Homo sapiens: one gene and its partners. The protein of the gene in region 4 interacts with the protein of the main gene of each other region in a pairwise test. Each region holds a gene or a part of one and is shown on either strand. Other genes may lie near its edges. The genes, in order: DMRT3, RNF216, DOC2A and UBASH3B.

Region 1 (8,275 bases), on a different chromosome or scaffold from region 4:
CTTATGTATTAAAGAGGTCCTTTGCCCCGCAAAAAGACTAACCACATTTCAAAGTCAAAGTTCACAAAGTAATAGATCTACATTGCCAGCAGATATTGAAAGATTTCTGATGGTCTGTATACTTAATGTACATGTGGAACTACCATTCCAATAGAGTTCTGCTTACTCTCTGCACTTAGTTTTGCTTACTCTCTGCACTTATTCAGGAGTAGTTCTGATATGCTTCTAAATACATATGGAATGTTATACACAAATACATTATTAGAACAACTGCAAAAAGGGTATAATACCTATAGCAACAGGCAGTCTCAGTGAGCAGTTTTCTTCAGCTTAAACCCCAAATAGACTTTATTTCTACAAGCACTGTGTAGAATGGATCCACTTGTATGCCTGTCTTCCTAAACAATCATCTATTATTTTCCTACCTTTCTCCCCACTCCCCATCAGAGTGGTGATTTGCTTTTTTTTAAAAAAATGGGAATTATGGGGTCACAGCAAGTGAAAGAAGAAAACAAAAGTTGTGTACATCAATGTACAAGGTATGGGGGGGTGGGGGTGACCAGCTGGAAACTGAGCCCTTGGTCCCTGATGCCTCGGTCCCCCAAAGTCCTCACTTGGACCTCGCCTTGTGATAAATCCTATTCTCCTTTGCAATTACTTGTTTTCAATTCGGAAGGCTCAGGCTATCCCTGAGTGCTAAGTAGGAGTAAAACAGCACAGCTCTGCTTTGTCCAGTTGAGATCCGTTTCCTTTTTCTATTCTCCCAAAGCACGTATCCTGCTGCCGCTGCCTACTCTGCCTTCCTGCCTGCCCTCACTCCTCCTCCTCCTGGGGTTGTGTTTTTAGTTTTGTGACTCTTTAGAAATCATGAACTTTAGCTATCCCAAAGAATACTCTGAAGAACACAGGATGTGAAAGGCATCTCCTTGGATAAAAACCACAGAACCCAATGCCCGATCACAGGAGTGCTGCTGAGTTAACCTCTGATGTTAACTCAGGCCTCTGCCCTAGTCCTGGGGGAAACGGAACCAGAGAAGCTGGAAATGGAAAAAAATTAAGAAAATATATTGGTACAAATCCAATTCTAGAGCTGAGACCAAACTCTTCCTTGTTATTTGTTCAAACCTATGGGAGAAAAATAATAAAACCTTTTTCTCCTCCCTCCTCTTCGTCTGTGACAAATCCATAAATATAAAAAGATGAGACAGACAAAAGAGAGACAACTGGCGATCATTTCTGAGAAACGTTTATATGCTAACTTGGATTAAATATCCACAAAATCCAAGTTCGGCAAACTCTCTTCAGGCTTTAAAATTCCCAGCTCTACTGTCACACAGGCTGTTCTCAGAGCTTCAGGCCTGGAAAGCATGGCGGAAAGACAGGGCAGCAGAACTCCACCTGCCAGTCACCCGTTGACTCACCATGAAACAGGTGAGTCCGCCTCACTTCCTCAGCTCCACAGGATCCAGACAAAGCAGTCCTGGGCTCCTGAAAGCCTTTCTCCGAAGCTAGGGGTACCGTCTTTAGGGAGTTGGCAGGTCAGTGTAGGTACCAGTTTTGCCACAGTTCTACTTACAGGAGGGCTCTGGACCTTCCCACTCCTAATTCCAGCATGCCCCCTTCCGGGAGAAGGTGGGCTGTGTTCCTTTGCACATTTGCCCCAGTTAAGGAGAAACACCAAACACATATCCACTGAATTCCAAGAGCCATCAAAAGAGCTCTTGAGCTGGGCAGAACCGCAAGCTAGAAATTCCCCAGGAAGAGAGAGACTAAGAGACTCAACTCAGGCCTGCCAAGCTCAGGAGGCCTGGATGGAAACGGATGGGTGGTGGGGGATCAGATTTTTTGTATTCCTTTAAACCACGAAGACAGCTGAGGGCAGCCTGGGGAACAGTGTTAAAGGATCTAGGAGGTTCTGCAAAGGAGTGAATTCTGGGCGCATCAGATTCTTTTCCCGCTATCAGCTCACAAGCCTTTCCGGACCCTTTTACTATCATTGCTAAATGGAACTTATTTCACCAGTTACAAGAGTCTGGAGGCCACGGAGCAAAGCTAGAAAGGCCAGGGTTCTGAGAGTTGGATACTTGTCCTCACTCAAATTTTCCTGGGCCCTGGGCAGGGCCGGGCCGGCCGAGAAGCACAGCCAGCTCGACTCAGCCGAGTGTTGGCCTTGGCTCCTTCCCTACACCTACCTACCCATTCCAACCCCCAAATGGCAAGGACCTCTAAAGCCTGCAGCCAGGAAAATCCGACCCCACCGTAGTGAGTGTGCGCACGTGGGTTTTAATTTTGTCCTGTCTCAACTCCGTTGTCTCCCTGCTCAATCTGACACGTTCCGAACCCTTCAACCTGGGAAGGCACCTGGCGATACTGACGCACAGTCCCGTCGTTTGGCTGCCCGGAGGCGCCTTCCCTGCGGGCGCGAGTGCCACTCGCGCTGGGTCCAGACTCAGCCGGCTTCTCCCGGGAGAGGAAGCCCCGGCCTGGCGGAGAGTAGGAAGGAAAGCCCCGACAGGCCCACGTCCCAAAACTTTGCCTCCAGTCCTCCCAAGTGGAGCTGCAGCTGGCACTCCGAAGTTGCCCCCGCGCCCGGCCAAACTCCCGCACCTCAGACGCTCTTACCTGGCTTGGCGAGCTGCGCCTGCAGAGCCCCGGGCTGCGGCTCGGCAGTCCAACGCAGCGCGGCGGCCGCGGCCAACTCGGCAGCAGGGCGCGGCGGCTGCGGCTGCGACGGCTGAGAGGCTGGCGGCGGCTGCGGGGCGGCGACGGCGTCCCCCGGCGGCGGGGGCCCTGGCAGAGCGCGCAGCGAGTCGGGGATGAGGCTCTCCAAGCTCTCGTTGGCCTGCTGCCGGCGCAGCGCCACCTGCGCAGCCATGACCCGCTGCCGCTCGATGATGAGGATGCACTTCTCGCAGGTGCAGTCCTTGAAGCGGCAGTAACGCTTGTGGCCCTTGAGCCAGGACAGGACGCCATGGTTGCGGCAGCGCGCGCACTTGGGCGTGCGCTGCAGGGGCGCCCGTGGCGGCTGCGACACCGGGCCGCCCATGTACAGGTAGGGGGAGCCGTAGCCGTTCATGCCCCGGGCTCCCGAATGAGTTGGCAGCCTGGCTGCGGGAGAGGGCCAGGGAGCGCTGGACGGCGGGGCTGCGAGGCCCGCTCAGGGGCGGCCTCCGGGCGACGCGGCCCTTGGTCCCGCAGCCCCGGTGGTCGTGTGTGCTCCGGGGCGGCCGGAGGTGCCGCAGTCGTCTCTCCAGCTCCCTTCGCGCTCACAGCTCGGCCTCCCAGCTCACGCCCAGCCAACGCCGACGCGGGCCTCTGCCTTGGGCGCGCAGCCGGGTCGGCACGTCCTCCTTCGCGGAGGCGCTGCGGCGGCTGCAAGGAGCCGGCGACAGCTCTGATTAAGGTCTGAGCCAGCTCTTCTGCAGCTCCCTCGTGAGCCGGCCGGACCCAACACCTCCGCCGCCCTCCCCCAACCCCTCCTCCTTCCCACCGCCACCCCCGCCCCTGGGGTCCCTGTCTCCTTGCACTCCCCGCCCCACGCCTTCCTCCTCCTTTGCGCCCCTCGGGTGCCTGCACTTCACCTTCCTTGCCACCTGCAGCCAGGCCACTCTCGCGGGGGCGCTCGCGGCCCCCTCCTCCAAGCCCTCTCCGCTACCCCAGCCCGCGGCTGGAGACTGCGGCGCTCCAGAACGCGGCGGTGCTCGCGGGGCGGAGAAGGGGAGGACCAGCGGGAGTGAGGGTGGGGGTGCCTGTAAGCGAGTGAGGTGGCCGCTCCGCTTCTCTCTCTTCTCCTCCCTCCAGTCCAGATCTGGCCGCGTTTTTCCGAGCCCAAGGCCGCTTTTATCCCGACATTTGGCCGCAGAAGCTCAGCTCCGGGAGAACTCGAACCTACGGGAGTGTTGCGGTTGCACCCCGGACCTGGGTGGAGTTTAGGATAGGGGAGTGAAGTGATGTTGGTTTAGGAAAGTTAGGCTCTTTTCGTAATTTCCTTTTAGAACGTATTTTTTTCTCTTTTGTTGCTTTAGAAGAAAATGGTTTTGGAGATCTGCCGGCCCAAGGATGACAAGCCATTTTGCAGGCGAATTTTACTTTTCTACCCTCCTGTCCATGTTTTAATATAAAACAGTATCCTGAAAGGTCAGGGACGTACGTGCTCCTGTAAAGGATTTGTTAAGCGCCGGGTATAAACTTTCAAGGGGCAGACACAGAAGCCACATTGGCGCCCCCAAAGTTACCGATATCCTCTTCCCTCGCTCCCAGCAGCTACTGGAAGCAAACGGAGGTCTTGCGCCAGCCACTCAGTTCAAATCCCCACGGATTCTGTGATTCAGTTATGGATATGGGATGGGGCCACTTTTTCACCTCCTTAACCCATAGACCCCAGTCATAGATGTCTTGGGGGAGAGGGTCCTTCACAAGATGACAGCAGAAAACTTTGTTTAGATTATTTGCGTGTTCCCATTCTCCCAGGAGTAGCGGGCTTGGCCTAGTGCAGACTATCGCTATATATGCACAAAGAAGGCCCTCCACCCTCGCACCTCCCCACTGCCCATCAGCAAACAAGCAAAAACCAAAAAACAAACAAACAAACAAAACAAGTGGATACACTGCAGGGCAGCACAATAGCTCTATGCGAAGCGGGGCAGTTCCAGAGCCTTCGGTGGATGCGCTTCTGAGAGCGTGCACCAAGCCCATCTCCTGGTGGGGAATCAAATGCTAGATGAGAGCGTAGGCAAGTCCGCTGCAATGTCCGACCCCTCATGGGCACAGAGGCCCTTGTCCCCTCGGGGAGGCCGCTTTTCTCTGTACTGCCCTGGAAGTAAGCAAGCAACCTGAAAACTTTCCTCTGGTGTTTGCCATGAATTCAAGGGAAGCACCTCCAGGCGTTCTAGCAGCCAACCCTCTGCCCAGAAGGCTGATTTGCGGAGAGGAGGGTTGAAAACCGAACCCCAGTTGTGTGTTTCCCTTGAAGCCCTTAGCTGTTCCCGTTTCATACGCGTCCGGGAGGTGGGGATCGCGGGACACTGACCTGGTAGAGTGTGGACAAGAAGCTCTAGCATTCGAGTGCTAACCCTGGGAGGCCATCCTCCAAAGCCGCGTGGGGTAGGGACCCCTCGGTCTTGCCCCTTCCCCCACCACTTTAATCCTTCCTCTAGTCTCAACCTTCTCTAGGAAAACAAGCCCTAAAATACAACTGGAAGGAATTTTGTAAGCTCTGGGGACGGGAGGCAGAGGTCGCCCCCAGCCCTGTAGGCCCGAGGCTAGGAAATGGGGAGCTGGACGCGAGTCATTTAACGTGCTGCGATATAGAGGGCCTCAAATGACACCTTAACTGAAAACTATTGCGCTGAAACCTCCGGATCTCTTGGAAACGTGGGGACCAACGACTTTTTTCAAAACCAAATTTCTTCCGATTTTCTTCAAACAGTGAAACGAGGAAGTATAAAGAACTTGAGTATGAATAAATTTTTAAAAGGAAAGCAGAAGAGCTCTGCACCAGGTTTGTGGGGGCACTTTCACTACCAAGGCGACCCCTTTTCCCCCGTCGGTCACCTAGCCACCCTATCTCGTTGCCACTCAAACAGTCTGGCATTTGGTCCCGGGGGCCCGTTTCACTCCGGTGCACATCGGGGGCTGAGATCTAAATACTCATTTGATATAGTGCAGTAATCCTTTTCTCATATTTGATGGGAATGTTTTCCATATCCCAGTATTTGACAACATCTCCCTATAGGGACAGGTTTGTATTTATGTTGGTAAAATGTCCCCTGCCTCAAAGTCTATTGTAACCCAACACCTGACAACCCCGAGTCCCATTTCTGTTTGCAGAAAGGGTTTATTCAAGCACATAATGGGATCCCAGCAGAAAGCCTTTCAGAACAAGGGGCTGTGGTAAACTTCACCACATGAACTCCGTTTCCAGGGCTATTAAGCTTTTAATTGGAAAATAGCAGAGGAAATTTCAAGGTGACTATAACGTGTTAGCAGTTAGTGCAGAGAAGAAAAGCCGAAGCGGGAATGAATGTAGAAAGCATATGGTCCAAATCACATTTAGGAGGAGCGGCCTGCTTCTACTAAGTCCCAGTAGCTTACACACTTATGGGAAAAATCATCAAAGAAATGGGAAAGGGAAGGGGGAGGATTACAAGTAAATGTAACCTCACTAGACTAGATCCATTGGTGCTCTCCTGTGGATGGTGTGTTCTCAAACCGCAATTAACTGAGTAGAATTCTGGCAGATAATCGTGGAAGAGGAAAAAACAATGTGCGTATGTGGGTCTTTCTCGGCACACACAATCGCTGGGTGTGTGTACATGTAAAAGCTCAGGATGCAGGTGCCCTTGCTGAGAAAGTGAGGACTCCAGATCTGGGAGTCCTGGTATGTGCTCCTCATCCCAACTAATACTCAATCAAAACGGCAGTTTCCGATTGTCCCGGATGTATAACACATCAGCAAATTCTCTGCTGGATTCTCATGGAAGGGGAGGTCAGGGTTCCTATTTCACTGTTTTCATCGCGACCACGATGATGTCAGTGCAGGCAGACGCTGGAAGCCTGAGCGTGAGGAACCCCTGTGAAAACAGAAAAACTTGTCCCCTCTTCCTGTGCGTGAACTACTCAGCTCTCACCTGGTCAGCTTCTCGACCTCGCTCTTCGGCCCGCTTCAAATTGAAAGGAGTTGGGGGAATGTCCAGCCAGGCAGTGGGGCATCCAGCAATCAATTTCTTTAGATGGCAATAATGTCTTGGTTCTCCCTCAGTTGGCTGGGGACAGACTCATGCAAACCCCCCATGAGATCCCCGAAGCCGCCCTCCGGGGCGAGGGGTGGAAAGCAGAGGCCGCTTGGGGTCGGGGAGACGACTGAACCCCGGGGTCACCGGCCCGGGGATACCGCTGAACAGGGGAAGGTCCTGGACCGCTGTTCCCACATAATTTTGGTAGGGGAAGAGACGGGTCGCAGCCTGAGGCCTGCTCCAGATCCCCACGTGCCGAGGCCTTTGGGGACAAACAGGGAGAGCAGAACGGCCTGTGACCTCGCTGGCCCTAAGCCGACCGGGCGGGAGAAGCCAGGTCCTTCATGTTCTCGAACTCTCGAAGCCAGCAGCGGCTCACGCCTAGGAGTTAGCGCTCTCCCGCTTGCGGATTCCTCAGACCCAGCCTGGATACACGACCGCGCCAGCCTTTCGCGGGGTTCAGGTGTAGCTACAGCACGGCTTCATCCGAGGGCCCAGCGCCGCGACCTCAGCCCCGCGCTTTCGAAGGGAACTGGAAAAGCGCTAGCCTGGGGCGCTCCCCGCTGGGCCGCGGTTCCTGGAGGCCCTGGGGGCAGCCGCTCGTCCGACTCCAGCTCCCTGTCGGGAGCGCCCGCGGCGGAGCCGACGCCCAGTAGTAGGAGGGCGTGAGTCCGGCTGGGGACGTCGGCCGCTTCCCCACACCGTCCTGGAAGGGAGCGTCGCAGACCCTGTCCACCTTAAGTGCAAAGGAAAAAAGGCACGTCTCCACCAACGTACAAATGAGCAGCGCTGATGTTAAGTCTTAAGATAACCTTTACCCTGCGACTTTAGAACACAAGGGCTGAAAAAATAATTTTAGGTAATCTGAGCAACATTCAAGGGAGAAGGAAAGTTTCTTCTCCCCAGAGCGTTGGCTCTCAGGGATCTGGGGCACTTCCTCCTCGGGACAAGCCCCTTTTCCAGAAAACCTCACCAGCCTCCCGCCTCCTCCTTTGCTGTCCCTGAACAAAGCCCAGCCGCGGGGAAAGCAAGCGGATTTGCGCGCTTCTGGGAAAGCGTTCGGATTCAGGGGCCCGGGAGTAATGAAGGGAAACGGCCCGCGCGGCCGACACCCCAGGAACAGGGGGCGCGAACTTTGCCTGGAGGCCAGGCCGAGGCGCCCTGCGGAGGCGCGGGAACTGGGAGGAGGGGAGGCTGAGGGGCGCCACACCAGGACGAAAGTAGGCCCGGGCCCTCTCCTCACTTTCCCAGGAGCCTCCTGGGCGGGGCAACTTCCGGAGTGCTCGGGGCCCCGCCCCCCAGACACGCCCCGCTTTCCCCTCCCAGCCCGGCCTCGCGGGCCGCGGCTTTCAACTGTGGAAAAGTTCCGTTTGCTGGTTTTTTGGACCGGGGCCGGGGTGGGGACTGGAGGGGCGCCGAGGGGGAGGAACTTAAACAGGTGGTGGAGTGGAGGCGACCCGCTCCCGAGGGCAGGCGGGTGGGGGAGGGGTAAGGGGGCGACTGTTGAAGGTGAGAATCGCGAGCGGTTGGCAGTGGCCCAG
Region 2 (8,125 bases), on a different chromosome or scaffold from region 4:
ATGTAAAAAAAATGCCCAGCTAATTTTTGTATTTTTAGTAGAGACGGGGTTTCACCATGTTGGCCAGGCTGGTCTTGAACTCCTGACCTCAGGTGATCCACCCATCTCAACCTCCCAAAGTGCTGGGAACAGGTGTGAGCCACTACACCTGGCTACTGACCCTTTCTAATGTGGTATTAAGAATGGGTTGGTGGCCGGGCACCGTGGCTCGTGCCTGTAATTCCAGCACTTTGAGAGGCCAAAATGGGAGGATTGCTTGAGCCCAGGAGTTTGAGACTAACCTGGTCAACATAGCAGCACCCCATTTCTAATAAAAATTAAAAATAAATAAATAAAAGAATGGGGCTGGATGCAGTGGCTCACTCCTGTAATCCCAGCACTTCGGAAGGCCAAGGCAGGCACATCACGAGGTCAGGGGTTTGAGACCAGCCTGGTCAACGTGGTGAAACCCCGTCTCTACTAAAAATACAAAAAATTAGCTGGGCATAGTGGCGGGTGCCTGTAATCCCCACTACTCGGGAGGCTGAAGCAGGAGAATCGCTTGAACCTGGGAGGTGGAGGTTGCAGTGAGCCAAGATCGTGCCACTGCACTCCAGTTCGGGCAACAGAGTGAGACTCCATCTCAAAAAAAAAAAAAAAAAAAAAAAGAATGAGTTGGTGATTGGATCCGTTGCTATAGTTAATAAAAGGAGTCAATAGCCTGGTACATTACTTGAGGTTGCTGCTTTAGTTATAGCTTCAATAGTCCCTTAAAATAAAGCGCAGACCTCGATAGACCCATTCACACTCCTTATGACAAGAACAAAATTCAACTTTTGAAAGTTTTTTGGGTAACATCTCTCATACTCCTTATCCTTGCTGTTTATAATCACATTAGCATCTGAGTACAGATGTTCTAGTTCCCTTTGCACCATGGGATTGAATATGATAACTTTATATAAAGAATTACTCTAAAGAATACCAGAAAAAAAACACGAAAACCTCGCTGTTTTAGGTATGGATTAATACTGTGTTAGTATCTTGAGCTAGATTTATATAGCACGAAACAGCATATCATTGTTTTATGGCCCCTAAAATGGGTTGCTTTACCTCAGAATTTGTGTGGGGGGTGGCAGAGAGATGAGGATGGGAGACAAGGCTCCCCCTCTCCTTAAGTGCAGGACATTTCATGTGTGTTTCTTGACTGCCTGCAGGATGGCCAGCTGATTGAGTGTCGCTGCTGCTATGGGGAATTTCCATTCGAGGAGCTGACGCAGTGCGCAGATGCTCACTTGTTCTGCAAAGAGTGTCTCATCAGATATGCCCAAGAGGCAGTCTTTGGATCTGGAAAGGTAAGAACTGTGTAATATGTCCCATGTATATAGGACACATTCCTGGAGTCTAAGGAGACCATGTTGATAGATAAGTGTAAGTGCCTCTTTGAGGGTGAGGTGGAGTTCTGCTGGTATGCTTATGTGTACATTACCTGATGTATGTGATTATGTGGGTTCTCTGAGCACAGCAGATTTCTTTTCAGGGCACAGTAGAATTCTTCCACACTCCCACGCCTAGCCGCAGAGGAGCACCTCCTTCGTTCATCATCTTATTTGTATTCAGAGGGAAGGTTACCTCAGAAAGAGAGAACCTTGCAGCCTATTGGATTAAATATATATTAAAATAACATAACTTACTTTACACAAGATCATATTTCTCTCTCCAAAGTGAGTTTCTCTGGACACCAGCATAACAAACACAGTATGGGAATTTTACATTGTTTTACACCACCGAGTTTGTGGTATTTTGTTCCAGCAGCAATAGAAAACTAACACAGTGATTAAGAAGATGACTTTTTGCCCGGGTGGCTCACGCCTGTAATCCCAGCACTTTGGGAGGCCGAGGTAGGCGGATCACCTGAGGTCAGGAGTTCAAGACCAGCCTGACCAACATGGAGAAACCCCATCTCTACTAAAAATACAAGATTAGCCAGACCTGGTGGCGCATGCCTATAATCTCAGCTACTGGGGAGGCTGAGGCAGGAGAATTGGTTGAATCTGGGAGGCAGAGGTTGTGGTGAGTTGAGATCGTGCCATTGCACTCCAGCCTGGGCAACAAGAGTGAAACTCCATCTCTAAAAAAGAAAAATAGGCCAGGCGCTGTGGCTTATGCCTGTAATCCCAGCACTTTGGGAGGCTAAGTTGGGTGGATCACAAGATTAGGAGTTCGAGACTAGCCTGGCCAACATGGTGAAACCCCATCTCTGCTAAAAATACAAAAATTAGCCAGGTGTGGTGGTGGGTGCCTGTAATCCAGCTACTCGGGAGGCTTAGTGAGCTGAGATCGCACCACTGCACTCCAGCCTTGGTGACAGGGCGAGACTCTGTCTCAGAAAAATAAATAAATAAAGTTTATGTTTTTTCAAAGAGCGTGACCTTTGGAGTCAAGCAGAATGCATTGGGCCATGCCCCCATCAGCCATACTAGCCCTGTGATCTTGAGCAATTTAAATTCCTTAAGCCACTGTTTCTTCCTCTGTAAAATGGAAATAATCATAGCATTGTTTTGAAAGCTAAATGAGGTGATGAGTTTAATGAACTTATTGTTTGACACATGGTAAATGCCTCATAAATTTTAGCTAGTTATTTTTAAAATGTCGTCTTTTTCCATTTGTTTTCTTTGGTGTTTGTCTTTCATGTGGGAAGCATTCCTCATGTCTGACACTTTTTGTTCATGTTAAAGAGCTGTTTGAAAGCTGTGTGAGTAGTGGGGCTTATAGACCAGTGAGTTTGACTCTAGGTGCATAGGAGCCAGTTAGCTTTTATATTATGAACCTGAATGGCTCTGAAGTCTCTTACCTGGGGTGATTCAGTCTGCCTCCTGCCTGGTGGGTGTGAGCCCATTTTCCAACATTCTGAAACTGAGGGGGAGGAAAGGTCTGGAGAGTTCTCTGTTCATTATGCAGACTCCATTTCAGACTCTGACTTCAGGCCACCCCTCAGCTCTGCTCTCCTCTATGAGTGGTTTCCAGTCCAGAGCCGTGTGGTCCAGCTGTTCAGGAGATCTTCCTCATTTCTCTCAGAGTCAGCCAATTCCTTCTGAAGCGGGTAGGAACTAGAGGCTCCACCCATGTCCCTGTTTTCAGTTTATTACTTTGAGTCCCTGCCCCTCCCCACCACTCAGCTCTGCTTTCCAGAGGTTCTCCAGCTTTCTAATATCTGTAGAGGGGAACAACTTCTCCCCAGCATCTCCTTTTCAGACCCTAAGCTATGGGCTTCTGTGTGTGGTCTGCTAAGCCATTTGCCCTTCCGCCACTTTCAGTCTTTGTGGATTGTGATTTGGGCTAATAGAGGTCCTTTAGTGATATCAAAGATGTACTGGATTTTTGTTTCATGGTTTCCATGATTTAAGTGTGATTTCTCAGAGATGAACAGGCAGAGAGATCCTTGCTATGTTGTCTCAGGATCTATGTTTTTAACCACTGACGCTTTTTATTTTTCTATAAATGGTATTGATTTTTTTTTCTTTGCCTTTTCGCCTTTTTCTAGTTGGAGCTCAGCTGCATGGAAGGCAGCTGCACGTGTTCGTTCCCAACCAGTGAGCTGGAGAAGGTGCTCCCCCAGACCATCCTGTATAAGTACTATGAGCGAAAAGCCGAGGAGGAGGTTGCGGCAGCCTACGCCGACGAGCTTGTCAGGTTCGTTCTCAGGCAGAGCGTGCCATCTGCCAACTCTTCCCCATTGTGAAAACTACCTGGGCACTTGCATCAGATGATGAAAATTGTGTTTATCTTCCAGGTTTTTTGACATTTCTTGCTGAGAAATAAGATTATCAATAATTTTACTTATTTATTTTTATTTTTTACGCCTCAGAACCATTGAGTAACCAGTAATTCTATTAATGGAAAAATCTGCCCCTCAAACTTCTTTTTTTTTTTTTGAGGTGGATTCTCGCTCTGTCGCCCAGGCTGGAGTACAGTGGTGCAATCTTGGCTCACTACAACCTCCGCCTCCTGAGTTCAAGCAATTCTCATGCCTCAGCCTCCTGAGTAGCCTGGATTACAGGCGTGCACCACCACATTCCAGCTTATTTTTAGTAGAGACGAGGTTTTGCCATGTTGGCCAGGCTGGTCTCCAACTCCTGACCTCAAATGATCCACCCACCTCAGCCTCCCAAAGTGCTGGGACTACAGGCGTGAGCCACCGCGCCCAGACTGTAGCTCAAACTTCTGTCTACATATCTTGGCACCCCCAAATCTTCTGGCCCGTAGATACAATCATGGTGCCCTGGGCTGGAGGGAAATCGGTATATGCAAGGAGTTCTCATTAAGGTTGGGACGTGTTTATTGAGTGGTTTATATTCAGTCAGGACCTCATGTGGTGCTTATGTTTCCTGATAAGAGCCAGCACAAAGAAGAGGTTCAATCTGTGTTTTTAAGGAAAACTAAGGAGTATAAAGGGGATGTGAATGTCCAGCTCAAAACTCCATCTTCATATGAACAGCCACATGGAGCTGGAACCAGATCAGGCTTTAATGTTTGAAGTAATGTCAGTTCTGCTGTTCTGACTCTAGGTGCCCGTCCTGTAGCTTTCCGGCTCTGTTGGACAGTGATGTGAAGAGGTTCAGCTGTCCTAATCCTCACTGCCGAAAGGTAGGGAGGCACATTTTTTTCTAGATGTATATTGAATTATGGTATTATGGGCTGCCCTCATGGCCCAAATATCTGCTGTTTACCTGACTGCTGATGTATAAGAAGGATTTGAGTGCTTTCCTTTTCATAAGCAAATGAGGACGAGTACTTTGTGAGTAACGGTTGACATGGTTACTGAGATGGCAGCCACTCTTGCCACTCCAGTTACAAAGCTCTGGATTCCTATTTTATATCATCTTCTTTAGGACAGATACTATAATGTAAAGTGGGAAGTGTTTAGTTTTTCTTCCACTGTGTCAACATTTTTCTTGCTTGCTCTCTTCACCACCTGTGCTCAAATAGCCCCTGCTACCCCTCCCTCCCCACACACACACCTTTTGCCATTTTCAAAGTCCAAACGACGCTTCTTTGATTGAGGAACTGGGCATCTTAGTGGCATCTCCATCACATCTGGTAGGTTATTTATTTGACTGTTTCTCCTCATGAGAACTGACTATATTACGTGGGAGCAGAGCTGTCTAGGTGCATTACTGTTGCAGATCTTTGTTCCCTTTAACTTGGCGCCCTGTGAACTAAGAATGTCTTAAAATCTTTCAGCTATTTAGAAGCCACTTAGAGTTTTTAGTGAATATTAGCATCCACCTAGACAAATACGCTCTAAGCCATTTTTCTAAAATTGCATGATTAGAGTTGAACACTGCAATATCTTTGCCTTGGGGAGAGTAAAGAAATTAAGGTAGAGATTAGAAAAGGAAGAATAAACTAAACTAATGGATCAAAACTTTATTTCTTTTGTTTTCAGCATTAATATTTCTGGCCATTTTATATGTTCGCACCCCAGGCTGTTGCTATAACAATTGTCACAACAGTCGCTGGCATCTTGCAGCTCTTAAGAAAGCAGAGTGCTAGCGTGTCCCTTGTGTGCTTCCAGTGGGTCAGGTGTTGGACTGCCTGGGGAGGTGATGCCTACGCTAAGATGCAGCAGATAAGGAGGAAGTAGCCAAAGGATGGAAAGGGTGGGAGTGGAGTGGAGATGGAGAAATGTTCTAGGCCCCGGGAGTGGCAGCAATGTGGACGCTTACTGGTGCTAGGAGTGTGAAGGAGGCTCATAAGCTGAGTAGGGGCAGGCCCATGCAGCACACTGTCCTGAGGTGGGGAGAGATAAAATATAAGGAAAGTCTACTTGCCTATTGAGTAGTCCAGGTGAGAAATGTACAGCACTGCACAGCCTCTTGGGTCTTCATGAGTTGCTTAGAAGGAGCTGGGAACTACATTTCCTGGTAAGGTTTCAAAGAAGGTCTGCCAGTGAAAGTGCTTATGTACAATTGGGAAGGCCAAAGAAGAGGAGAGACCATTATTCTCTGAGGACGTTTTTTGTTTTTGTTTTTGTTTTTAAGTTTTGAGGCAGGGTCTCACTCTGTTGCCCAGGCTGGAGTGCAGTGGCACGATCTCAGCTCACTGCAACCTCCGCCTCCTGGCTTCAAGCAGTTCTCCTGCCTCAGCCTCCCAAGTAGCTGGGATCACAGGTATGCGCCACCACGCCTGACTGATTTTTATATTTTTAGTAGAGATGAGGTTTCACCATGTTGGCCAGGCTGGTCCTGAACTCCTGGCCTCCAGTGATCCGCCCACCTCAGCCTTCCAAAGTGCTGGTATTACAGGTGTAAGCCACCACCCCCAGCCTGAAGACATTTAAAAGCAGCTGCATTGGTTGCCCAGTGGCTCATGCCTGTAATCCCAGCACTTTGAGAGGCTGAGGCAGGAGGATCTCTTGAGACTAGGAGTCCGAGACCAGCCTGAGCAACATAGACCCTATCTCTACAAAAAAAATTTTAAAACTCAGCTAGGCATGGTGGTGTGTGCCCATAGTCCTAGCTACTTAAGAGACTGAGGCAGGACAATCAGTTGAGCCCAGGAGATTGAGGCTGCACTGAGCCATGATTGCGCCACTGCACTCTAGCCTGGACAACAGACTAAGACTCTGTCTTTAAAAGAAAAAAATTTAAAAAATAAAAGCCTGAGGGCACACATGAGTCTGGAACAGCATCTAGTGAGTATCAACTTGGCATGTTGGTGGGAGCTTCCCAGGGGCTCTTAAGATCCCAAATAGGAACACCACATATGTTTTTGTTTGTCTATGGGAGGAATATACATGGCCTGCTGAACTTGAAGGTAGCCATGTAGCTTCTTGTGGTCAGTGAAACATGTGAGTAGTTAGATCACTTGCAGAAAAAGCCGTAAAGGCATGTGGTGTGGGGTAGTGTCAAGATGACAGAAGAGAAAGCTCCAGACCCTCTTTTTCCCATAGAGAGAACAGTTCAACAACAACGGAAGGACCATTTCTCTCTGTGAGAAATCCAGAAACCAGTTGCATCAAAGGCTGGGGAATTTGTGACGCTGGCTCTCCAGAGTTCCTCCCCCTGGCACAGCACCATGTGATTGGGAGGAAGCTCCCAACTCCTGGCATCTTTCTGGGGAGGAAAAAGAAGACTGGAACATATATCTAATATTCAGACCTTTCAGGAGGCTGCTCAAGGGACTGGTTTCTGTCTTGTCTCACAGGAAAGGGCACCAGGTTGGGGACCTCTGAGGACAAATGGGATGGTGAAACTAGCACGTACTGACTCCTCATTGCCCTCTCCCTGCTCTTCTCGGGAGGGAAGGAGTTGGAGCATGAGTCCAGCATTCTAGGTTTTCTGGAGTCTGCCCAAGACTCTCGTTCCTGTCTCACTCGATGAAGCACTGATGGGACCTGGCATGGTCTAGGTCCCTGGGGGCTGCTGAGAACAAGAGAAAGCTGGGTGGTTTGTACTGCGCCAGAGGACCCACGGTACAGTAGGCAGAGTCCAGTGCACCTCGAAGGCTGCTTTTTGGGTCCAGGGGAAGAGTAGAGCATGTGTTCAGCATTTGGGCTTCTCAAGGGGCTGCCTGAGGGACTGGCTTCTGTCTCACCCAACTCACTGCTGGCAGAACCCAACCTACTCTAGATGCCTTGGAGCTGCTGAGGCCAAAAAAGAGCTGGGCAGCTTACAGCAGCTCCAGAGGGCCTGTGATACCTCAGACAGGCACCAGAAGAAGCAAGAGCTTGCAAGCTCCTGAAAAAAGGAAAACAAAAGCCTGAGCACTTATATTAGCCTACGATTTAGCAAAATCTTCTTGCAGGAAGCCTATTTTAGAATAAAGTATGAGTATCTCATGTAATTTATTGAGTACTGTACTGAAAGTGAAAAAGAGAATGATTGTATGGGTACTTGAATTACAGTTTCTACTGAATGTGTATCACTTTCACACCACAGTAAAGTCAAAAAGTGTAAAACCATTGTAAGTTGGAGACCATCTGTATATGCACCCGACATCAGTGCACCCAAATATGTGAAGCAAATATTGACAGCCGAAGGGAAAAATAACACAAAAATAGTAGGAGATTGCAATACCTCACTTTCAATCATTGTTAGCACCACCAGGCAGAAGATTAGTAAGGAAACAGCTGACTTGAACAACA
Region 3 (4,139 bases), on a different chromosome or scaffold from region 4:
TGGGGCTGGAGGACAGGTATTGAGAACCTTTCATCCCCACATCCCAGGCCAATAAGCTAAAAACGAAGACTCAGAGGAACACACTGAATCCCGTGTGGAATGAGGACCTGACTTACAGCGGGATCACAGATGACGACATCACGCACAAGGTGCTCAGGTGAGGGCCCCCCTCCCCACCACCCAGCAGCAGCTCGGGGACAGCTGACATTGTAACCGCTGGTTGGTTGATCTATGTCCCATTAAGCCCGTACCTCTCTGATGCTCAAGAACCATCAGCGGCTCCCTAGCCCCTTTGGCAGCAGGCCAAAATTCTTCCCTGCCATTCCTGCCCCTCAATATCTCCTGCCTGCCAGGTGTGGTGGCTCACACCTGTAATCCCAGCACTTTGGGAGGCCGAGGTGGGCGGATCACTTGAGGTCAGGAGTTCAAGACCAGCCTGGCCAACTTGGTGAAACCCCCGTCTCTACTAAAAATACAAAAATTAGCCGGGCGTGGTGGCATGTACCTGTAAATCCCAGCTACTCGAGAGGCTGAGGCAGGAGGATCACTTGAACCCGGGAGGCAGAGGTTGCAGTGAGCCGAGATCGCACCACTGCACTCCAGCCTGGGTGATGGAGACTCCATCTCAAAAACAAAACAAAAGTATCTTCTGCCCCTCAAACAGAGGACTCCCTTCTTCCAACTGGCCAGTTCCACAACTCCTGAACTTTTCCTGTTGTTTTCTATCTGGAAAGCTCCTTCCTGCCAGCCTAAATTCCGCTCATCTGAGGTTCAGTCCAAGCTCTGCCCCCTCCCAAAAACGTTCCTGGGTTGCCGAGACCCCTTCTCAGAGCCCTTGGCTTAAGCCAGACCTCTGCAGCTTTGGTCTGCCCCTTCCGTGCCTTGAGTTCCCCTAAAATCTCTTAAGGAGTGAAGTCTTCAGGGACAGGGAACTTGCTCCGTCATCCTAGGAGATGGAGATGTAGGGAGAGTACTCCCTCAAGTCAGGTGGCGGGCAGCGAAACCCAGGCTCTGGAGAGACCTCTGCCTTTGTGCTTGGATTTGCAGCTGGGACCTTCCCTGATGGTCAGGGCTGTGCAGCAGAGAGGCCACCTTGGTTTCAGCTATTCGGGTGGAATGGAGGGGAGGCCAGAGGCCAAAACCAGAATGAGACCAAAAAATGAGCGCTCACCAGGGCCCAGCCCAGGCTTAGCATTTTCACATTTCTTTCTTTCCCTTGACTATCTCCATTTACAGATGGGAATTGAGGCATAGGGTGATCAAGTGACTTGCCCAAGGTCACACAGGTGGCTCAGAAGTGGCAGGGCTGGGATCTGCCCATCCTCCATGCCACAGATGCCCAGCCTGGTAGTGGGTCACTGCGGAGGCAGGGCAGGGACTGCAGGAGGACAGGTGGCTGGAAAGCAATCATTTCTTAGTGAGTCCCTGCGGGGCTGGCTCTCTGCTGCATGCAGGAAAAGGACGGGGGTTCCCGAGGAGGCGTGGGGTACTGGTCTGGCTGCCCAAGGCTCCAAGGCCCTTCTAGCTCTCACGGCCTGTGTCTATGGCCACATCCACCGTGGTGTTCGGCTCCTGCCCCCAGGCCCTGAATGGAGGCAGTGAGCAGCGTGCTCCAAGATTTCTGAGGGCTTCCCACAATGGCTGAGCATGTCCTGATGGACCAGGGACAGCCGGGTGGCTGCAGAGGGAGGGACAGAGGAATGGGCAAATCTGCTTGTCCTTCTCAAGTGCCAGCCTGTCTTCCAGATGAGACGTAGTGTTTAGGGCAGAGCTGGGCTGGTCCAAGGCCCTTCCTACACCCCGGAACGGGGCTCAGGTACCCCAGGGGCCCTGACACTGCAGTTCCCGACCAGGATCGCCGTCTGTGATGAGGACAAGCTGAGTCACAATGAGTTTATTGGGGAGATCCGCGTGCCCCTCCGCCGCCTCAAGCCTTCGCAGAAGAAGCATTTTAACATCTGCCTCGAGCGCCAGGTCCCGGTCTGTGTGGGGGCTGCAGGGGCGCCAGGGGAGGGGGCCCTGGGGAGGCCAGGCTTCCAGAACCTTCTCTTTGCCCCCTCAGCTGGCGTCCCCCTCTTCCATGTCAGCGGCGCTGAGGGGCATCTCCTGTTATCTGAAGGAGGTGAGGCACCTCATGGGGATGGGGATGCATGTGGGTGGGAGGCTGCAGGGGCCCAGGCTGACCCTGAGTCTGTGCCCCGCAGTTGGAGCAGGCGGAGCAGGGGCAGGGGCTGCTGGAGGAGCGTGGCCGCATCCTGCTGAGTCTCAGCTACAGCTCGCGGCGCCGGGGACTGCTGGTAGGCATCTTGCGCTGCGCCCATCTGGCTGCCATGGACGTCAACGGTTACTCGGACCCCTACGTCAAGACGTGAGCCCTTGCTCTGACCCTCTCCTCCCCAGGGAGCCTGCCCTGGCCTGAGTTGGGCCTGGCCTGTCCCTCACCCCTCAGTTCGTCTCCCTCCACCCCACCCCCAGGTACCTGAGGCCCGATGTGGACAAGAAATCCAAGCATAAGACGTGTGTGAAGAAGAAGACTCTCAACCCAGAATTTAACGAGGTACCCAGGAGGGGACGGGACATGGAGGGAGGCCAGGGAGGGGCTGGGGAGCTGGCTCACGAACGGGTGGCCGGCCTTGTCCCTAGGAGTTTTTCTACGAGATAGAGCTCTCCACTCTGGCCACCAAGACCCTGGAAGTCACCGTCTGGGACTATGACATTGGCAAATCCAATGACTTCATTGGTGAGGGAGGAGCTGGCTGCGGGTGTTGAGGGCGGGCAAGTGGCAGGGAGGTGGCCCTGACCCTGCCCACCTGCTCCCCAGGTGGCGTGTCCCTGGGGCCAGGTGCCCGAGGCGAGGCTCGGAAGCACTGGAGTGACTGCCTGCAGCAGCCGGACGCAGCCCTGGAGCGCTGGCACACCCTGACCAGTGAGCTGCCCCCTGCGGCCGGGGCTCTGTCCTCAGCCTGAGTGGACAGCAGTGTCCCGGCACAGGCCCATCGAGCCGGGTCCAGTACCCAACCTTCGCACGAGTGTGTTGCACGTTTACACAGGGTGGGCTGCCCCCACCCTGCACTACCTATTTTTGTGAGTCTCCGTGACCCGGGTCTGTCTGCTCATGAGGGGCTGCGGAGTTCTATATTCACATATGCAAACCTCCTGCCTGACTCGCTAGTCCCTGCAAATATGCAAACCCCCCATCATCTGCACACCCGGGCAGTGCTCAGAGCCCGGCCCCAGGCCCCCGCGCTCCTCACTCCTGCCTCTCCACGCTGCCCCGTCCCTCTCCCCCAACAGGGAGGAGGTCGGATTAGGGGAGGTTCAGAGGAGGAGAATGTCTCAAAAAAAAAGGACAAAAAACAAACCCAGAGCCACTCCTTTAATACAGAAACTTCATTGAAAAAACCTAGCCCTGTACAGCTGCCCTTTTAAAGAGGTGGCCATTGCAGGGTCTCTGCCTCCCCAGCAGGTGGCAGATGCTCCCGGCCACTCGTTTAAATAACTGTCCCCTGGAGGGGGCCGGGGTTTGAAGGCAGGGCCCCTGCCACCCTCCTGGGGGACACCCGTGCATGTTTACGCCTTTTCTGGTTGTGTCAGTGGCCGGAGCATGGCAGCTGGGCATCAATAAACACCTCCGAGGAAGCTGGACTCGTGTGTGCTGGCACGGGGAGGGCGCCGGGCGGGGCCGTGGTGGGCATGGCGTGATGTCACGGTCACTCCGGGATGTCGATCACCAGGTCATCGTCTCCATCCAAGGCATCGTCCCCGCTACCTGCATCGCTGAACATCTGCCGAGGGACCGTGCTCAGGATCGTGGGGGGGGGCATCTTAGGGGGTGGGAGGGGGGTCAGGGTTGTCCCGACCCCAGCCCCAGAACCCCGGCCAGGGAAGGTCAGCGGCCCTCCCACAGGGCAGTCGGGGGGTCCCACCGCCATCTGCAGCAGGGGGAAGAAACACAGGGGGACTAGTCAGGGAGGCACTGGGGCCTCAGGAGACTAGGCTTTGCCCCCCAGGGCAGCTCTGGGGAGGGGGAAGAGGCCCTGGGCACAGCTGGGCCAACCCATGCTGCACTCAGGGCCTGCCCCCCTCAGCCCCTCGAGAGCCTCAAACCAGCAAGTGCCTGGGGGTGGTGATAGAGGTGA
Region 4 (8,125 bases):
CTCTGTTTGCTCATCTAGAAAATGGAACTAATAATTGCACTTACCTCATAAGGTTGTTGGGAAGACTGCAATACAGAGCTTAGCTTTACATGGTTCAGAGTCTGGTGTATAGCGGTGACTATAAAATCGCCATTTGCATAATGATGATTATTCTCTTTTTTCTATCTTGTGTTTGCCAGTCCTCACTTAGTGCTCATCAAAGGAAATGTGTCTTCCATAAAAGCAATCCTGTAGATGAACTGCACTTTCCTATTTAACCCCAGAGGTCAAATGACTCAAGGAGGCAGAGCCCAGCTTCCTTGTAAGACAGACACAGACCTTCTCTCTCTCCTAACCCAAGAGAGACATCAGGAGGTAGAGCCCCAGGGGGATGTCAAGCATGGCCTGGCTGGCATGGTGGGAGTTGCCCAGGGGATCCAGGCAACAAGTCATGACTGGGGGTCAATGATTTTGACAACACTCCCTGCCAAGTGCTTCTCAGTTCTCTGAGTCCCTCCTAAGGAAATATGTTCTCTCCACACTAACTGGAGTGTCTTACTTGGTTCTGAGTTATGAACCAAGACAAGTTGATGAAGCTGGGTGAGCTGCCTGGCCGCTTGGGCTTAGCACAGGCCTGGTGTGTTGCAGGGAGAAGCCAGCTCTCCCGATGCTTGAGATGTTCTGGATGTCAGGCCCGGCTTCCTCCCTCCACTGTTCTGAGCAAGAAGCATCTGACTGTTTTCTTACTGGAACTGGCAGCTCCACGCTGTCTCAGAGTGAGTCAGGTCCTTTGATTATAATGACAGTTAAGAAGGGAAAGAGGCTGGCATTCGTCTTGCCATGGGAGACGAAGGAGGGAGAGAAGGGATCCTATCAGTATCTTCACAGCTGCGATAAAGAAACAAACAGATATGTACAAGAACGATTCTAGGTAGCCAGACATTTTGCACCCTGAAGCTTTGATGAGTCAGACAATAAAACTGGATTTTCTTTTTTTTTTTCTTTTTTTTTTTTTTAATTTTTTCTGAGATGGAGTCTCACTCTGTTGCCCAGGCTGGAGCACAGTGGTGCAATGTTAGCTCACTGTAACCTCTGCCTTCTGGGTTCCAGTGATTCTCCTGCCTCAGCCCCCCGAGTAGCCAGGACTACAGGTGTGTGCCACCACGCCCAGCTAATTTTTGTATTTTGAATAGAGACGGGGTTTCACCACGTTGGCCAGGCTGGTCTTGAACTCCTAACCCCAGGTGATCTGCCTGCCTCGGCCTCTCAAAGTGCTAGAATTACAGACGTGAGCCGCTGTGCCCAGCCAAACTGGATTTTCTTGAACTGTGTGATGTTTGGGAGGGTCTTAGTTTAAAATAAAGTAGAATAGCTGGTCTATTATACTGTGTGAACGGCACAAGATTTCCTTGGGCTACAGTTACTTAAATTTTACTGTAACAGGTTTCACTTGGCAACATACGCAGATGGACTGATGCTGCTTTGTTGAACTGTAGGTTCCTGGGTCCCACCCCTGACCTACTGAGTCACAATGTGTGAGGAGCAGAACCCCAGCACGAGTGTATTTTTTTTAAGTCTCCTGGTGATTCTGATATGCACAAGGGTTCAAAATCAGTTTTTCAGGGCATGAGACTTCTGAGACTTCGTTTATAAGTAGATAGAATGAGTCTATCACTTCTAGTGAAAAAGGAGCCACTTCTGAAAGTGAAGGAACAAAAATTTACTAACAACCAGTTTGCTGTATTATATTGGTGAATATAAAAAGGTATTTTCAAAAATAAAATTATGGGCCAGGTGCAGTGGCTCACTCCTGTAATCCCAGCATGACTTTGGGAGGCCAAGCAGGCAGATCACCTGAGGTCAGGAGTTTGAGACCAGCCTGGCCAACATGGTGAAACCCCATCTCTACTAAAAATACAAAAATTAGCCGGGCGTGGTGACGCACGCCTGTAATCCCAGCTACTCCAGAGGCTGAGGCAGGAAAATCGCTTGAACCTGCAGGGTGGAGGTTGCAGTGAGCCCAGATCATGTCATTGCCCTTCAGCCTGGGCGACAAGAGCAATACTCCGTCTCTAAAATAAAATAAAATTCTGATAATACAATGTTAAAAGTGAATAATCCAGAACAGGTGGTAGCCTAAACGGGTTGCCTCATCAACAGATGCAAGCCAGGAGTATATGGAGCAAACTGGGATGGATGGCTACCCAAATTGTAAAGAAGCAAGAAATCTATAAAATTTAAATGTTTCCCCTGGACTCTGCTCAGTGATTCCAAAGATGTTCACTGGATTTGCCTAACAACCATATTTACATTGCAATGTTTATTAGATAAAGCTTTGTGGAAGTCTTAACTATTGACAATAATTTAAGCTTGGCAGGTTTTGACTGTCTTCCTTTCAGCAAGACCTCTTTTAGGCTTCTGTAGCTATAGTGTTACACTCAGAAATGACAGTTCTTGGCTCACAGCTCTAAACGTCTGGTGAGAATGGTCTTCTCTGAAATAATTCTATTTGTAATCATCTTGTTGGAGGCGTGATTGAGGGGGAGATAGGGTTTGGAGACCGAAGAGGGTAGAATAGGGGACTTTGGCACAAAGTTTCCTTGACTGTTAGGAGCCACTGGCTGAGGTGGAGATGGTGAAAATACCCCCCATCACTCTTCACTTCAGATGGAAATTACCACGGGAAATATTAAAGGCAACAGGGATCGTAGATTTCTTTTGAACCAGAAAAATAGCTGCAAACAGATCATTGATACGTTGTTATTCTTGAACTTGTCTTTGGTGCCAACCATGCATGGCACAAAATCACTAGGATCCATCCCTGCCCAAAGGAATGAATATATCTGTCCTCAGTGCAGAAATCCATCTACCTCTAATTTATTTATTTACTTATTTTTATTCTTATTTCTTTTTGAGACGGGGTTTCGCCGTATCGCCCGGGCTGGAGTGCAGTGGTGCGATCTTGGCTCACTACAACCTCCACCTCCCAGGTTCAAGAGATTCTCATACCTCAGCCTCCCTAGCAGCTGGGACTACAGGCACGCACAACCACGCCCAGCTGATTTTTTGTATTTTTAGTAGAGATGGGATTTCGCCACATTGGCCAGGCTGGTCTCAAACTCCTGACCTCAGGTGATCCGCCTGCCTCGGCGTCCCAAAGTGCAGGTGTGATCACCACACCCGGCCTACCTCTAATTTATTAACTGCAAGACTTCAGTATAAAACAAGGTATTTTTCCCTTAGGAATGAGGCCACTCCTGCTCAGCATCCCCCATCATTGTGCTACCCACAGAGGGCTTTGAGTTAACTCCCACACTCCTGTTGAGCCCAGGAGGAAGTGCTGATGACTGCTGGCCAGAGCAGTTAACACCTTCCTTATCTTCCTCTGCAGTTCTTATTCAATCTTAAATACATCGTCATCCAACTCTCTCACGTTTGGGGATGGAGTATTGGAGAGGCGGCCTTATGAGGACCAGGGGCTCGGGGAGACGACTCCTCTTACTATCATCTGCCAGCCCATGCAGGTAAGGCTGATTGCTAGGGTCACACCCCCAACTCTAACCAGGATTCACTGAGAACCTATTTATTAAGCATGAGGCCTTGCCCTTGCTGTCTCCAAAGCTTCCACGATCTCTTGGGAAGAAAGTACACCAAATTATAAAAGATATACAAAAATTCAAGGCTAGGAAGAGTCAGATGAGCAGTACTGACAGTTACTTCCAGCATTTGAACCTAGGTTCATAAGGAACGTTGTTCCACAGAGATAGGAGGAGAGTTTATCTCTAAAGTAGGAATAATGCCCATAGTTGTATCTGTTTTGTAGGTTGTTACAAAGATTAAAGAAAATAATAAAATTAGGCTCTTAGCACCATAACTGGCATATAATGAGTGCTCAGTATGTGTTAACTTTTTCAAGGAAGGTTGGAGATGGAAGGAGGCAGGGAGTCGTTGTTGAACAGTACAAATAGAGGCAAGCTGAAAGTTCAAGCATGTTGAGGATCAAGAGAGTAACCATTGTGGCTGGAGCCCAGGATTTAAATTAAGGAACAACAGGAAAAGAGATGGGAAGGATCATGCCACCGTTCCACATATTAACCACGTCAGGGCAACTAGAAGCAAATGTGAAGTGCTGGCCCGCGCTAAGGAAACTGGAAAAGCTGACTGCATCAGAAAGACGGAATGCAGAAACAGCTGTAAGGTTCCATCCAGCAGTTATAGAAGCCAAAGTCATTTGGACAAGCCTTTGACTAGATTTGCCTATGTCATCACCCAGAGGTAGCAGTTGTCTCATTTTGGGGATCATATATATAGTCAGACAGCAGAGGCTACATAGTGATTAGAATAGGAAAACAGGGTCTCATTACTGGAGCAGACCATGAGGACCATGTGGTCTGTCCACACACTTTAGAGAAGAGGTAGACACATTTGTGATCACAGAAGTCCTCACTCCCTGAAGAAGTTGATGAATTGCCCCTTTTTGGGGGGAAGGTGCCCCACTAGATGGCTCTCTCTACATGAATGGCTAGTTTTACCTCTGAGCTGTAACTTAAAGTGGACGTCATATTTTAGTGGCCACTTTAATGGCCAAATGCTACTCCTACAAAGAGCAGCCGTAGCAACAATAATGCCCTTTTCATAACCCTTCCTATTTTATAAAGCACATGCAGTTTATCTTATTCCAGCCTCCAAATAACTTATGAGGTCTGTAGGACGAGTCTTACTGTCCTCACCAAGTCATACCTTGGCAGAACTTTGGTAGTAGAGCTCAGCTCACCTGGCACCTGGCTCCAAGACATGTCCACTTTGCCATGTGTGTCTTCACTAATAGCCTTTCTTTCTCTGCAGCCGCTGAGGGTCAACAGCCAGCCCGGCCCCCAGAAGCGATGCCTTTTTGTGTGTCGGCATGGTGAGAGGATGGATGTTGTGTTTGGGAAGTACTGGCTGTCCCAGTGCTTCGATGCCAAAGGTGAGTTGGTGGTGGGCCTGCTCAGCACTGCCATACCCATAGTGGCCTCTAGGCGGCACAGTCAAGCTACAGTTATCTAGATGGAGTCATTCATAGTTTTGCGTACTATAGAAGATGTCTGTCATGTGTAAGCCCCTCCTGATTGTCTTGAGCTTTAGAGAAGAAGTAAGTGTTCTTGTCCCCATTCTATAAACTGGGATACCACGGACCAAAGAAGACAGATGTCTTGCCCCAGGTCATATGGCAAAGTCAGCAGCAGAAACGTGCCCTGATCCTATGGCCAGAGTTCCTGCCATTAAATCTCCCTGGCTCGCTCGGTTCCATTTTCATTTGAGTAGCATTTGAAGATACAGAGGCTTGCTTAACCAGGGAATCTCACCTGCTTTAAAGTGCCTGGTTATTACCTTCACTGAGAAACTACCTCATGTCACTTTTGTCAGTAGAATGGAAAAGTGGATTCCAAGTCACTTTATGAAACAAAATGTCAGCCTTGATATTTTCTATCAGCTCCAGAGAGCTCAGTGTGATCTCTTTGGCCAAGAAGGAATGGGGGTGGAGAGTGTCAGGATCAGTAAGGGAGTCCCAAGTAAACAAGAAATGTATGTATCCTCTGTCTAACCTCTTTGTTTTTCAGGCCGCTACATACGCACCAACCTGAACATGCCTCATAGTTTACCTCAGCGGAGTGGTGGTTTCCGAGATTACGAGAAAGATGCTCCCATCACTGTGTTTGGATGCATGCAAGCAAGACTAGTGGGTAAGTATCCTGGAGTGACTGCACTCCAGGCATTTCTTGCCTCCTCCTTCAAAACACTGGTACCATGGATATGCAAGACACTTCCTGTGGGTTTCTATAACTTTCCTACAAGTTTCCTCAATTCAAAAGGAACTTACTACACAACCATTAAGTTTAGGACACTGTGCTCAGCCCTGGGTTGGTTGACCAAAGTGAATGAGGTGTGGTCCTTATTGAGGAGCACGTGATCCAGTAATGGCGTGGGTTACTGTGCTCACTCTTGGATGTAGCAGACAGGTCAGCTTCTAGTTCAAGACAGCAGCATCTGCCAAACATGGCTGTGGAAGAGGACAAGAGTGAAGAAGATGGACCCTGGACTTGCTGAATTTGTAAAGGCCAACTGATCCTTTGAAGATGCCTAGCTCTTTGCAAGCCCATTCCATTACTGGCACGGGGAGATAGTATTTTCTGTTCAGTCACTTAGCAGATATTTAGTGCTCACTTACTTTGTGCAAGGTATTGGACTAGGGGAACCCAAGTGTGAGTCAGGGAAACAAACTTATGTGTGGATAAATATCATACAATATGATATACATAGAGCTATGCACTAATGTGTATGTATTGATTGCATGCATCCAGACATAGTGATATGCATAGAGCTATGCATGGTCACAGAATATTATGGGAACACAAAAAGACATCTAAGAGTGAAGAGGTGAGCTGAGAGCTGAAGTAGAAGTTAGCTGGGCAAAGAAGGAATAGGAGTGAGGAAATGGCATTCTCAGTGGGAGGGACCACATAAAGAGTCTTAGGCTTGAGAAACAGCCTCAGGAATGCAGGGGAAACAAAGTGTCTTGTGTCTAGAGTATAAATTGTGAGGCAAGGCAGAGATGAGGCTAGCAAGATGGATAAAGGCAAGTTCATGGAAGACCTTGGCCACCATATTAAGGTGTTTGGATTTAATCCAGTAGACAAAATAACTGGATTCCAGGCCAGGCGTGATGGCTCTCACCTATAATCTAGCACTTTGAGAGGCTGAGGCAAGAGGATTGCTTGAGACCTGGAGTTCGAGGCTGCACTGAGGTATGATCACACCCCTGCACTCCAGCCTGAGTGACAGAGCAAAACCCTATCTCTAAAAATTAAATTAAGAATAATAATAAATTTTTTAAAGAAGTGGATTTTATGAGGATAGCATTAAAGTATGAGGTGTTGGGATTTATCTCTGGTATCTAAAAATATGACATGTTGAGATTTTGGTTAGCACAGAATAAAATTAAAACAAGACCTAATATTCATAAAATAAATCCTCTTTCACAAACTTGAAGCCAAAGTATTGTCCTGTTTCTAAATATCTCCTAGCTAAAGCCTTTACCACTTGTTAGCACCAGAGGGAAGGGAAAGAAAAGACAAGAAGGGGCCAGGTGTGGTGGCTCACGCCTGTAATCCCAGCACTTTGGGAGGCTGAGGTAGGCGGATCACGAGGTCAAGAGATCGAGACCATTCTGGCCAACATGTTGAAACCCCATCTCTACTAAAAGTACAAAAATTAGCTGGGTGTGGTGGTGCGCGCCTGTACTCCCAGCTACTCGGGAGGCTGAGGCAGGAGAATGGCTTGAACCCGGGAGGCAGAGGTTGCAGTGAGCCGAGATCACACCACTGCACTCCAGCCTGGCGACAGAGCGAGACTCCATCTCAAAAAAAAAAAAAAAAGACAAGACAAGAAGGGCTCTGTCGCTTGCTCTCATAGGAACGCCGATGAGGGGTTTTGTTAGAAACTAACAAAGGCTGAAACTACTGGCTCTATGTGAGCCCCAGTTAGGAAAGAGGGGTTTACAGGAGCTTACTGCTTGGCCCCCTCTCACACTGCGGGTCAAGGTGAGACTGAGTAAATCCATCAGACTGATTTTTTTGTGGTTTTCTTTGCAGGTGAAGCCTTATTAGAGAGCAATACCATTATCGATCATGTCTATTGCTCCCCGTCCCTTCGCTGCGTTCAGACTGCACACAATATCTTGAAAGGTAAGACTTGCAGGTTGACAAAAACAAGTAGTCCATCCCTCTCTTTCTAGGCAGCCCCACACATAAATTATCTTAGAGCCATGGGACATTTGCCAGTTGAAAGCTTTGAATCTGGAATGAAGCAAGGATTCTTTCAGAAGGCGATCTTTGCACAAGTCACAAAAACATACTCTGGGCCGGGCACGGTGGCTCATGCCTGTAATCCCAGCACTTTGGGAGGCTGAGGCAGGCAGATCACCTGAGGTCAGGAGTTCGAGACCAGCCTCAACATGGAGAAACCCCGTCTCTAGTAAAAATACAAAATTAGCCAGGTGTAGTGCTGCATGCCTGTAATCTCAGCTGCTCGGGAGGCTGAGGCAGGAGAATTGCTTGAACCCGGGAGGCGGAGGTTGTGGTGAGCCAAGATTGCGCCATTGCACTCC

What was found.
Region 1: the proteins of UBASH3B (region 4) and DMRT3 interact in binary tests that used the Homo sapiens proteins (3 or more experiments, as listed by UniProt).
Region 2: the proteins of UBASH3B (region 4) and RNF216 interact in binary tests that used the Homo sapiens proteins (3 or more experiments, as listed by UniProt).
Region 3: the proteins of UBASH3B (region 4) and DOC2A interact in binary tests that used the Homo sapiens proteins (3 or more experiments, as listed by UniProt).

What each region holds. Positions count from the first base shown.
Region 1 is NC_000009.12:971,803-980,077, reverse strand, and holds the start of DMRT3 (doublesex- and mab-3-related transcription factor 3), read right to left. Parts: upstream 3,424-8,275; 5' UTR 3,077-3,423; coding exon 2,623-3,076; intron 1-2,622. UniProt on the Homo sapiens protein: Probable transcription factor that plays a role in configuring the spinal circuits controlling stride in vertebrates.
Region 2 is NC_000007.14:5,708,259-5,716,383, reverse strand, and holds part of RNF216 (E3 ubiquitin-protein ligase RNF216), read left to right. Parts: intron 1-1,193; coding exon 1,194-1,331; intron 1,332-3,520; coding exon 3,521-3,669; intron 3,670-4,473; exon of another isoform or gene 4,474-4,544; coding exon 4,545-4,623; intron 4,624-8,125.
Region 3 is NC_000016.10:30,005,014-30,009,152, reverse strand, and holds the end of DOC2A (double C2-like domain-containing protein alpha), read left to right. Parts: intron 1-47; coding exon 48-157; intron 158-1,853; coding exon 1,854-1,980; intron 1,981-2,062; coding exon 2,063-2,122; intron 2,123-2,204; coding exon 2,205-2,368; intron 2,369-2,475; coding exon 2,476-2,557; intron 2,558-2,643; coding exon 2,644-2,740; intron 2,741-2,821; coding exon 2,822-2,967; 3' UTR 2,968-3,639; downstream 3,640-4,139. Other genes in the region: INO80E (INO80 complex subunit E), read right to left, coding at 4,102-4,139. UniProt on the Homo sapiens protein: Calcium sensor which most probably regulates fusion of vesicles with membranes. Binds calcium and phospholipids. May be involved in calcium dependent neurotransmitter release through the interaction with UNC13A.
Region 4 is NC_000011.10:122,791,332-122,799,456, forward strand, and holds part of UBASH3B (ubiquitin-associated and SH3 domain-containing protein B), read left to right. Parts: intron 1-3,370; coding exon 3,371-3,503; intron 3,504-4,824; coding exon 4,825-4,945; intron 4,946-5,579; coding exon 5,580-5,702; intron 5,703-7,610; coding exon 7,611-7,703; intron 7,704-8,125. UniProt on the Homo sapiens protein: Interferes with CBL-mediated down-regulation and degradation of receptor-type tyrosine kinases. Promotes accumulation of activated target receptors, such as T-cell receptors and EGFR, on the cell surface.